2 separate regions of the Homo sapiens genome follow, and region 2 is linked to region 1. Evidence: fine-mapped expression QTL. A gene starts in region 1. The other region holds a variant in brackets. All regions are shown on one strand. Distances are between the middles of the regions. Region 1 holds the start of GRK1 (G protein-coupled receptor kinase 1). Region 2 overlaps TFDP1 (transcription factor Dp-1).

Region 1 (5,360 bases):
TACAGACCAGGAAACAGAAGCACGCAGTGGCTAAGCGGCCCAGCTACCAAGCGAGCCTGTGATCTGATCCCCAGCACGGGCCTGGGGCCTGTCTCAGCGGCAGATCCGGGGCAGGACTTTGTGGAGGCAGCGCCACCTCCTCTCTGCCTGGGGACAGCAAGATCACGGCCCCCAGCTGGACTGATCTTGTCTCCAGCTCTAGGGTCAGCCCTAGGAGTGGGCGCTGGTGAAGTTCGTCTTCATTTACCCTCCTGGTGCAAGGCCCTCAGCCCTGCAGAGGCCCCGCCGACTGCATCACACGTCCCCCACAGCACCACGTGCCTCCCACACCCACACCAAGACCACACACAGGACGAGCCCTGATTGTCAGGTTGGGCGCCTCCCAGGCTCCTGCTCCGATGTGGGTCCAGGGTGCATTGTTTCAGGAACCAACAGCGAGAAGGGGATTGTGATGGGTGCAAGGCTTCCCTCGAGGGCAGGCCTGGGGCCACCATGGCTCTGCCTGTGGAAAGGAGCCCGGGCCCTGGAAACCCTGACCCAGTGGGACAGCGGGGCCCCCTCGTGCCCTCTGGCCCAGCCCTTACCTGATGTCACCTCCGTTCATGATGGTCATCACCAGACAGAGGTCGGCTTTGGTTTCAAACGCATAGGCCAGAGACACGATGAACCTGCTGTGTACTTTCATCAGAATCTTCTTCTCCACCATAGCACCCTGAAAAGTGAGACGCTGAGTACGCACTGGCTTTGAATAGGAAAGGGACTAGGTGCATCGCAGAGACCGTGTGCACCCGGCCACGCCCACTGCACACAGCCACGGAGCAGTCGCAAACATGCTTTAAATGCGCCTTTCACAAAGCAATTGCAAATGACTTCAAAACATGCCTGCACCCCCATTTCAGAAAACCAGACATGTGAATTCCTTCACATACAGGGGACTTCTGGTCTTCTGGGCCAGCCTCTGGCAAGGGGAGGCTCAAGCCCCAAGGCTGAGCAACATGGGTGAGGACCCTGCCAGCCCCGCCTGCCCAGCAATCCTGCAGCCACAGCCCTCCCTCCTGTCCAGGCCCCCGTGGGCTGGGCTCCCAGACCAGCACCTCCCAAACCCCCTCACCACTCTGCTTCATTTTGTCTTTATTTTGAAACCTCACAATGCTCCATTGAACGAGTTTGTAAGTGTCTGGATAAGGATAGCACATCCCTCTTTGAAGAGGGAATTCCTGATGTCGGAGGCCCCTTTCTGCACTTACATGGGGAGGTGTTCAGTTGATGTCAGTATGGAGTTCAGTTTGGTGACGGAAGTCAGGAAAAGAGGCTGAATGTTGGGTTAAATTTACAGTTAGATGTGAATGGCACGGTGGGGGAATTAGATGTCAAGAAAGCTAATTTTTAAAAATTACTGCTACAACCACACAGCATAGTTACTCGCCCCGAGTTCCACGGCGAGAACACGCAGATGTTCCAGGGCCTCCGCCCAGCGCTGTGAGCACCTGGTATTTCACCTTCACTGAGGGTTGAGGTTCCGCAGAGCCAGGGTGCACAGTGGCTGCTGCTTAACCCTAAGAGCTTCCTGTGCACTCAACACAGCTGCGTGGTGGGAGAGGGGCCAGGAGCCACGTGGAGTCAAAGTGCAGGGGGCTGGCTCAGGAGATCACGTCCACACCCGGCACAGCCGCTGCCCCTCACCCTTAAGACCTGTAAGCAGCTTCTGCTGATCCTGCCCCAGATGCACAGTCTGACGCCAGTGGGCAGAGCGGATGAAACTTAGAGCGGCCTGCGTGCCCGTCGCTCACTCCCACCCCCGAGGACAGCACACTCAGGGGAACAGTTCCTGCCCCCGGCGTCACGCCAGGCTCTGCCTCACAGAAACTGTCATCAGAGCGAGGCTGCCTCCGTCCTGCCTCAGTTCCTCCTGCATTCGCTGCGATCAGAGGAGCCAGGGCCCTGGAAAGTCTTCCACAGTCATGGCAAAGAATCCGGAGACCCTGCCCCTCTTCAGCCTCCCCTGAGAGGTCCTCTTTCCCCCACACTTGAGGCTAGTCTGTGGTTGGTGAAAAACCGACGAGTGAACGTGGCACGTCCCCACCCAAAAATGTGGAGGTCACTCTCCGAGGAGGGACTTCTGCACATGGACTGGAACTGCTCGTAACCGCACGGCCGCGGGGCGCCCACGTGGCGAGGCTGGCATGCATGCTCCCTTAGGCACCAGCTGTTAAGGGCCCCGGAGCCGACAGTGACCTGGGGGCCCTCTGCACCCTGCCGCCCCATCCCTGCACCCTGCCACCCCATCCCTGCTGGCCGGGTCGCGCTGCTCACCTGGTAGCCCTTCCTCTTCTTCAGCCGCTTCTTGTTCAGCTTCTTGCAGGCATACAGCTTGCCGGTCGCCTTCATCTGGCAGGCCGACACCTCCCCGAAGCCCCCTTTCCCTAGGACCCTGAAGTCCAGGAACCAGTCCTCCCCCATGGGCTGGGCTTCCAGCCACTTCCACTGCAGGAACCTCAGGAAGTACAGGCTGCCCAGGTACTCCTGGAAGGGGGCTTGGCCCAGGTGTGCCAGGGTGGCCTGCAGCAGGGGCTGGAAGAGCCCGTCCTGGATCTCCACAGGCCCCTCCTTAAACTTCGCCACTATCCCCTCATCCAGGAAGCTGCAGAAGAGTTTGGCCTGGGGGTCCAGGTACTGGGCCAGGATGGTCTGGGCCTTCTGTGGCTGGAGGTCATTGTCTGCCGTGTCATAGTCCTCGATGTCTTTCCAGAGCTCCAGGGCCGGCAGGTGCTTCTCTGCCGATTGTAGGAACTGCTGAAAGAGCTTCTTGCCGATGGGCTGCTCCAAGCACACACTCTCAAACTCCAGGCTGAGGCTGTCGCGGAGGGACTCACACTTGGACAGCGGGGGCAGCTTGAGCTTGGCCAGGTACTTCTTGTCCCGGGAGGGTTGGGAGCTGCTGCCGTCAAAGCTGCCTCGGGCGGCGATGAAGGCAGAGTTGGCCACCACGGTCTCCAAAGACCCGAAATCCATCCCGGAGCTTCCTGCCCGCTTCAGGCGTGAGGGCCCATCAGCCGAGGCCAAGCCGGGAGCGTTCACAGACAGAGCAGGCCTGACTGCTGCCCTTGGCCTGTGGCCCGTCCCTGCCCTTGCTGGACGAGAGAGACGCCCTGGCCCTGTCGAGGGTTCCTGGGGACCACTGGGAAGCCCCTGGGAGCCCGGGGCTGACACAGCACCAGGCTAAATCCCAGCCGGGGTCACGGAGGACGCTTAGGAGTGGCAAGAAGGTGCTAGAAAAAGACAATCCCCTGAGCTGCTTGGAATCCGATTAGATCATTCTGCCCGGCCCCTTCCTCCAAGGGGCCGCCTCACTTTTCCCCTGAGAAGGACAAACAACCACCAGGCTTCTGGGGCCCCTGGCTGGAGAGGCACTCAAAGCTCTGTTCTGAGCTGCTCCATCCAGCCCCTGGCTTCAGCAGCCAGGCTCAAGCCTGCTGTTTCCTTGGGATGTGGGCCTGACGGAGAGGATGGAGCCGGAAGAAACCGTAATTTACAAAGGCTGTTTTTCCCTATTTTTATTTTTAAGAAAATAGCAAATGAGAAAGAAAACCACCTGATAATAGGAATTTAGAGAGGAAAAGAAGCCCACAGTGACCAGCTTCCTGGGGGTCTGTAGGTGAGACCACCAGCGCTTACTGAGGGGTCAGTTCCCAGTCATTTGTCTTCTTCTCACCTGGGGTTTGCAGGCAAGGCAGGATTGTCAAGAGGCAGTTGCTGGTGACACCAGGACCAGGGAGCAGAAGATCCCCGGAGCTACATCAAACCAAGGCCCCACTCAGAGGGACGCATATGGAATACAGCTGGGGCTCACCTGGGACACACCTGGAATCCACCTGAGAAACACCTGGGGTACACCTGGGGCACATCTGGGACACACCTGGGACAGCTGGGACACACCTGGGGAACACCTGGGACACACCTGGGACAGCTGGGACAGCTGGGGAACACCTGCAACATACCTGGGGCACACCTGAGACCTGGGACAGCTGGGACAGCTGGTGAACACCTGGAACACACCTGGGGCACACCTGAGACCTGGGACAGCTGGGACAGCTGGGGAACACCTGGAACACACCTGGGGCACACCTGAGACACACTTGGGACAGCTGGGACACACCTGGGGTACATCTTGGACACACCTGGGACAGCGGGGGCACACCTGGGGCACACCTGAGACACTTGAAATGCAGCTGGGGAACACTTGGGACCCACCTGAGACACACCGGGGGCACATCTGGGGCACACCTGAGACACACCTGAGATACAGCTGGTGCACATGTAGGACACACCTGGGAGAGCTGAGGCACACCTGGGATATGCCTGGGGCACACCTGAGACACCTGAGACAGCTGGGGCACACCTGGGACACACCTGGGATGCACCTGGGGCACACCTGGGACACACCTGGGATGCACTGGGGGGCACACCTGAGACACCTGAAATGCAGCTGGGGCACTTGAGACCCACCTGAGACACACCTGGGGCACATCTTGGACACACCTGGGACAGCTTGGGCACACCTGAGACACCTGAAATGCAGTTGGGGAACACTTGGGACCCATCTGAGACACACCTGGGGCACACCTGGGATACAGCTGGTGCACACGTAGGACACACCTGGGACAGCTGGGGCACACCTGGGATATGCCTGGGGCACACCTGAGACAGCTGAGGCACACCTAGGACACACACCTGGGGCACAGCTGGGACACACTGGAGACAGCTGGGGCACACCTGGGACAGCTGGGGCACACCTGGGACAGCTGGGGCACATCTGAGACACACCTGGGATGCACCTGAGACACACCTAAGACAGCTGAGGCACACCTGGGATACAGCTGGGGCACACCTGAGACACACCTGGGACAGCTGGTACACACTTGGAGCACACATGGAATGCAACTGGGGCACACCTGCAATGCAGCTGTGACACACCTGGGACAGCTGGGGCACATCTGAGACAGCTGGGGCACACCTGGGACAGCTGGGGCATACCTCGGACACACCTGCAACACACCTGGGACACACCTGGGGATGGTCACACCAATAGGATTGTCAGCTTCATGAGGGCATGGCCCTGCCTGTCTTATTCCAGCACACAGTAGGTACTCAATAAAGGTTTGGAGAAGAATGAGGAGGAATTCAGCAGGGGATTGGTTCCAGCTCACACAGGGAGGAAGCAAAGGGTCGCAGAAAGGAAGAATGCCGGAGCATAGAGAGGTGGAGACTGTCAGCCCACCCCATTCCACGTGGGAGAAGAGGCAACTGTGGGAGGGCACTGGGGGCTGCACCTGGCAGGGTCTACAGAGGCCGAAGCGAGG
Region 2 (5,360 bases), 66 kb after region 1:
AAGTCCCCACTCTCCAGGCCAGGGGCCAGCTCCCATCTCAAACTCAGCACCTGAATAGGCAACCCCATTTCAGCCACACAGGATCCAAGGCCACAGCCTCCCCTGTGTCCTGCCCTTAGGAGTGTGGGTGTGAGTCTGGGTCTCTACTGACACTTTAGAACTTACTAAGACAGACCCAATTATAGCCTCTGTGGTTTTTTAATATGAAGTCATTCTTATGGGTTGATATTCAGTAGCTACTACTAGACCACAATTACCAGCTTGAGCATGTAAGGAGCTGTAGGAAAGACCCTCATGTGGGTCCTCCTTGCATTTCTTGTGGGCTGTGACCCACAGGAACTCAGTAACAAGCACCACCAAAACACAAATAGTTTAATTTGCCTTTTTTTTTTTTTTTTTTGAGACAGGCTGTTACTCTGTCACCCATGCTAGGGTGCAGTGGTAAGATCTCAGCTCACTGCAGCCTTGACCTTCCCGGTTCAAGCCATCCTTTCACCTCAGCCTCCAAAGTAGCTGGGACAGGCATGCACCCCATGCCTGGCTAATTTTTTTTTATTTGTAGTAGAGACGAGGTCTCATTACGCTGCCCAGGCTGGTCTCGAACTCCTGGGCTCAAGCAGGTGTAAGCTACCACGCCTGGCCTAGCTTCGTGTTTTTAACATATTGCTGAAATTGCTATTAATTTTAAGACATGTGCACTGGACTTATTTTCCTGTTAAATCTTTACACTCAAGATGCAACCCTACCTGCCAGTAAGGACACCTCAAGGTGCTAAACACATTAACATATAAGCCAACAGCAAAGGTGCTCCTTGGCTAAAACTAACCTTAATTTCTATTAGAAAAACTATATTCAACTGTATTTGTGTTTGTACTTCATGGAGATAACAGTAGATTATTCTCTTCTGTCTTACATTAGACAAAACCATACTATGAGTAGCAGCAGTAACAGCAAAACACACGTTCGTAAAACACGCCATGCTGCTAGAAAAAGCTGAATCAATTGAAAATAAGAACTATAAAAGATGACATCACCAGTGCCCACTCTGTGACAGGGTCTACGAATGTGACTAATTTCCATGCCAGGCCCAAAAGGGGACCTATCACTGCCGTCATCTTTAAAACACACAGGTGACCACGGTTCTCACAACCTGAAGCTGCACTTGCCTGGCCAGGATGGAGGCGCTGCCCGGGCCCTCAACGCCTCCCTCTTTGCCAGCCAGCACCCGCCAGGGTGTGTCCAGGGGGCTCCTCCCCTGGGGACACACAAGCCCTAGAGACCCAGGAGGGTGCGAGGGCATGAAGAGGACTCTCCCTTACACTCGAAGGCCCATGAGGGGGTCAGCAAGCAACACACAGCAGCCAGGTGGGGCATACACCTGGACCCCACGCTGTCTCACCCTTCTCTGCCCTGCTCTTCTCTGCACTTTCTAATCTACTGAACAACTGACCATTTCCATTGCTAACAGCTCCCCACTAGAGTATAAACCAGGCTTATCCGACCTGTGTCCTGCAGGCTGCATGTGGTCCAGGACACCTCTGCATGCAGCCCAACACAAATTTGTAAATTATACGTTTTTTTTTTTTTTTTAGCTCAACTATTGTTAGTGTTATTCTATTTTATGTGGCCCAAGACAATTCTTCTTCCAATGTGGCCCAGGGAAAACAAAAGATTTGACACCCCTGGCATCAACTCTGTGAAGCAGGAATTTTGCCTGGTAAGAAAACGGCCCAGCAGGGGCCCTGCAGTCCCGACATCACAGGTTCACAAGCCAGGCCCAGGGCAGGGCTGGAGAGAGGGACGCCAGGGCCGCACACTTCTCAGGGGGGACCCTGCAAATGATTCAGGCTTGAGGGTCACCCAGTCTCTGTCACAGCCACTCAACTCTGCCTACGCAACAGCCATAAAAGTGTCAAGGAACAATCTTAATTTCAAAAGTAAGCAGAGCTGAGAAGAAAGTGACCCAGCTGCACTGAGGGATCCCCCTGAGGACTGGAGTGGCCTGCGCCAGACCCCAGGGCAGAAAACACTTGCACTGCACATTAAACTGCATAATGAATGAAGAGACCTGGGGAAGAGGCCACTCTATAAA[C/AC]AGCAGCTGGGATGGGCCCCGCCTGCTACCAGGACCCTCCTGGCCCCAGCACGGGACTCCTGCACAGAACTCTCTCCGCTCCTCCTTTGACTCGTGCGGAGAACTCCATCCGCTCCCCTCTCGACTCCTGCAGGTAACTCCATCCACTCCTCCCTCAACTCCTGCGGGTAACTCTGTCCACTCCTCCCTCGACTCCTGCAGGTAACTCAGTCCACTCCTCCCTCGACTCCTGCAGGTAACTCCGTCCGCTCCTCCCTCAGCTCCTGCGGGTAACTCCGTCCACTCCTCCCTCGACTCCTGTGGGTAACTCCGTCCACTCCTCCCTCAACTCCTGCGGGTAACTCTGTCCACTCCTCCCTCGACTCCTGCGGGTAACTCCATCCGCTTCTCCCTCGACTGCTGTGGGTAACTCCATCCACTCCTCCCTGAACTCCTTCAGGTAACTCTGTCCGCTCCTCCCTCGACTCCTGCGGGTAGCTCCGTCCCTCCTCTGTCCGCTACAGGGCTACAGAGGGAGTAGCTCTGTCCTCCTCTCAGAGCTACAGAGGGAGTAGCTCTGTCCTCCTCTCAGAGCTACAGAGGGAGTAGCTCTCTCCGCTCCTCCCTCGACTCCTGCAGGTAACTCCATCCGCTCCTCCCTCAACTCCTGCGGGTAACTCTGTCTGCTCCCCCATCAACTCCTGCGGAGAACTCTCTCTGCTCCTCCCTTTTGGCTGTTGGGTTGCCCACCACAAATAGCCAGCACCTTCCGCGCACCTGGCCACAGGCCCTTCCTCTGGGGCCGGGCCTGGGACCCCAGCCTCGAGCTCCCACGAGTCCTCCTGGACCCTGGAGAGCACACCTGGGAACAAACACAACCCCAGAGCTCAGGGACGACCTCCGGTGGCCCTAGCCATCCCTTCCAGTGCCCTGGCCCTGCAGGGGCCCCCAAGTGGGCTGCCCTGCCCTGCTCCCACCAAGCACCAGAGCCTGGTGAGGGTGAGGGTGGCCTCAAGAGACCGACTCTGACCTTGCTGGCTCACCCTGAGGAAGCCACCAGCGAGCTGCCCTACGCAGGGGCCCACAAGGCAAAGTGCAAGAACACACCCCCACCAACAGCCCACAAGGAGCGGGATCCCACCAGCAGCCGGGTGAGTTAATTTGAAAGTGGTCCTGCCCAGACCAACTCAGGGCACCACAGGCCAGGGCCGCCCGGGACAGGCTGAACGGGGACCTGGGCTCCTAACAGGCACTAGGAGGTGACAGACGCTGCTGGTTCAAGTTGCTAAGTCCAGGCAGGAGACGCTGGGTGACCGCCAGGCCCAGCCCTTCTCAGCTACGGAGGCCAACACCTCCCCACCTCAGGCAAGAGGAGATGGTGCCACCACAGAGGAGGGATGCAGCAGAAAAGAACCTCGCATCTGGAGAAGATCCAGGACAGCGTGAAGGCTCATCTCACAAACACGCTCCGAGTGAGCAAAAGCATCAAGTGGGAAGAGCAGGAGGGTTCTCTCTCGTGGTCCTGGAGCCCTACGTGCAAGGCTTCTGTCTCATGGTCCTGGAGCCCCACGTGCGAGGATTCTCTCTCACGGTTCTGGGTCCTGGGTTCTCTCTTGCAGTCCTGAGTTCTCTATCACGGTCCTGGAGTTCTACGTGTGAGGGTTGTCTCTCACGGTCCTGTAGCCCTACGTGCAAGGATTCTCTCTCACGGTCCTGGGTTCTCTATCGCGGTCCTGGAGCCCTACGTGAGGGTTCTCTCTCATGGTCCTGGAGCCCTACATGCAAGGATTCTCTCTCACCATCCTGAGTTCTCTATCACGGTCCTGGAGCTCTACGTGTAAGGGTTCTCTCTTATGGTCCTGGAGCCCCACGTGCGAGGATTCTCTCTCACGGTCCTGGGTCCTGGGTTCTCTCTTGCAGTCCTGAGTTCTCTATCGCGGTCCTGGATCCCCACGTGAGGGTTCTGTCTCATGGTCCTGGAGCCCTACGTACAAGGATTCTCTCTCATGGTTCTGGGTTCTCTCTTGCAGTCCTGGAGCCCTATGTGCAAGGGTTCTCTCTCACAGTCCTGGAGCCCTAAGTGCAAGGATTCTCGCTTACGGTCCTGGGTTCTCTATCGCGGTCCTGGAGCCCTATGTGTGAGGGTTCTCTCTCATGGTCCTGGAGCCCTACGTGCAAGGGTTCTCTCTCACGGTCCTGAGTTCTCTATCGCGGTCCTGGAGCCCTATGTGTGAGGGTTCTCTCTCATGGTCCTGGAGCCCTAAGCACGAGGGTTCTCTCTCACGGTCCTGGAGCCCTACGTGCAAGGATTCTCTCTCACGGTCCTGGGTTCTCTCTCACGGCTCTGGAGCCCTACATACAAGGATTCTCTCTCACGGTCCTGGGTTCTCTCTCATGGTCCTGGAGCCCTACGTGCAAGGATTCTCTCTCACAGTCCTGGGTTCTCTCTCACGGTTCTGGAGCCCTACATACAAGGATTCTCTCTCACGGTCCTGGGCTCTCTCTCATGGTCCTGGAGCCCTACGTGCAAGGATTCTTTATCACAGTCCTGGGTTCTCTCTCACGGTTCTGGAGCCCTACATACAAGGATTCTCTCTGGCAGTCCTGAAGCCCTAAGCACAAGGGTTCTCTTTCACGGTCCTGGGTTCTTTCTCATGGTCCTGGGTTCTCTCTCACGGTCCTGGGTTCTCTCTCGTAGTCCTGGAGCCCTAAGTGCAAGGATTCTCTCTCACGGTCCTGGATGTGGAAGCGGGAGGTCAGGGCAGAGCCAGCTTCCAGGCTGCACCTACTACCTCCTCCTTGGGCCTCGCAAGGTGGGAAAAGGGCAGGCTCGCCGTGGGGACTGGCTATCAGGACACTGATCCAACAGGGCAGGGGGGACTACACCCGCGTGCCCTCACTCAATTCTAGTCACTCCCAAAGGCCCCAACACCCAACACCTTTGAGGGTTTCGAAGGATGAACATTCAGCCAGGGCAGCCCATCAACAGGGTGGAGTACGTGAGGGCGCATCAGCGAGACCAGACTCCAGCAGCCTGGAGGGGGCGAGGCTCCAATGCAAACAAACTTTCCAAATTTGAGACAACTTGAGAAATGTAAATGCTGCCTATGTGACAATAAGAGTGAATGACTATCTCTGAGAGACACATGTCAGAATATTTAATAACTACTTAATGATCACCCTGGCCCGGCAGGGAGTCACCCAGGTCCGTGACAGGGACGAGGCACCAGCACAATCTCTCTCCTTTGTGTGTGTCTGAAACGTTCCACAAATTTTTTAGAATTATCTC

The links. PIP is the estimated chance that this variant, and not a neighbour inherited with it, causes the effect. A credible set is the group of variants that fine-mapping cannot tell apart.
Region 2: its variant is the best candidate, but not a certain one, in a credible set for the expression of GRK1 in lung (TOPMed, PIP 0.82).

Annotation. Positions count from the first base shown.
Region 1 is chr13:113,665,039-113,670,398 of GRCh38, reverse strand. GRK1 (G protein-coupled receptor kinase 1) reads right to left here and starts at 3,180. Exons shown (of 7, transcript NM_002929.3): 1 at 2,314-3,180; 2 at 585-712. The coding sequence starts at 3,012.
Region 2 is chr13:113,599,201-113,604,560 of GRCh38, reverse strand. The region is part of intron 2 of TFDP1 (transcription factor Dp-1); the gene reads right to left. Among named protein-coding and RNA genes, the nearest start is that of TFDP1, 17 kb to the right of the region's middle. The variant C/AC (reference allele first, on the strand shown) is at 2,093.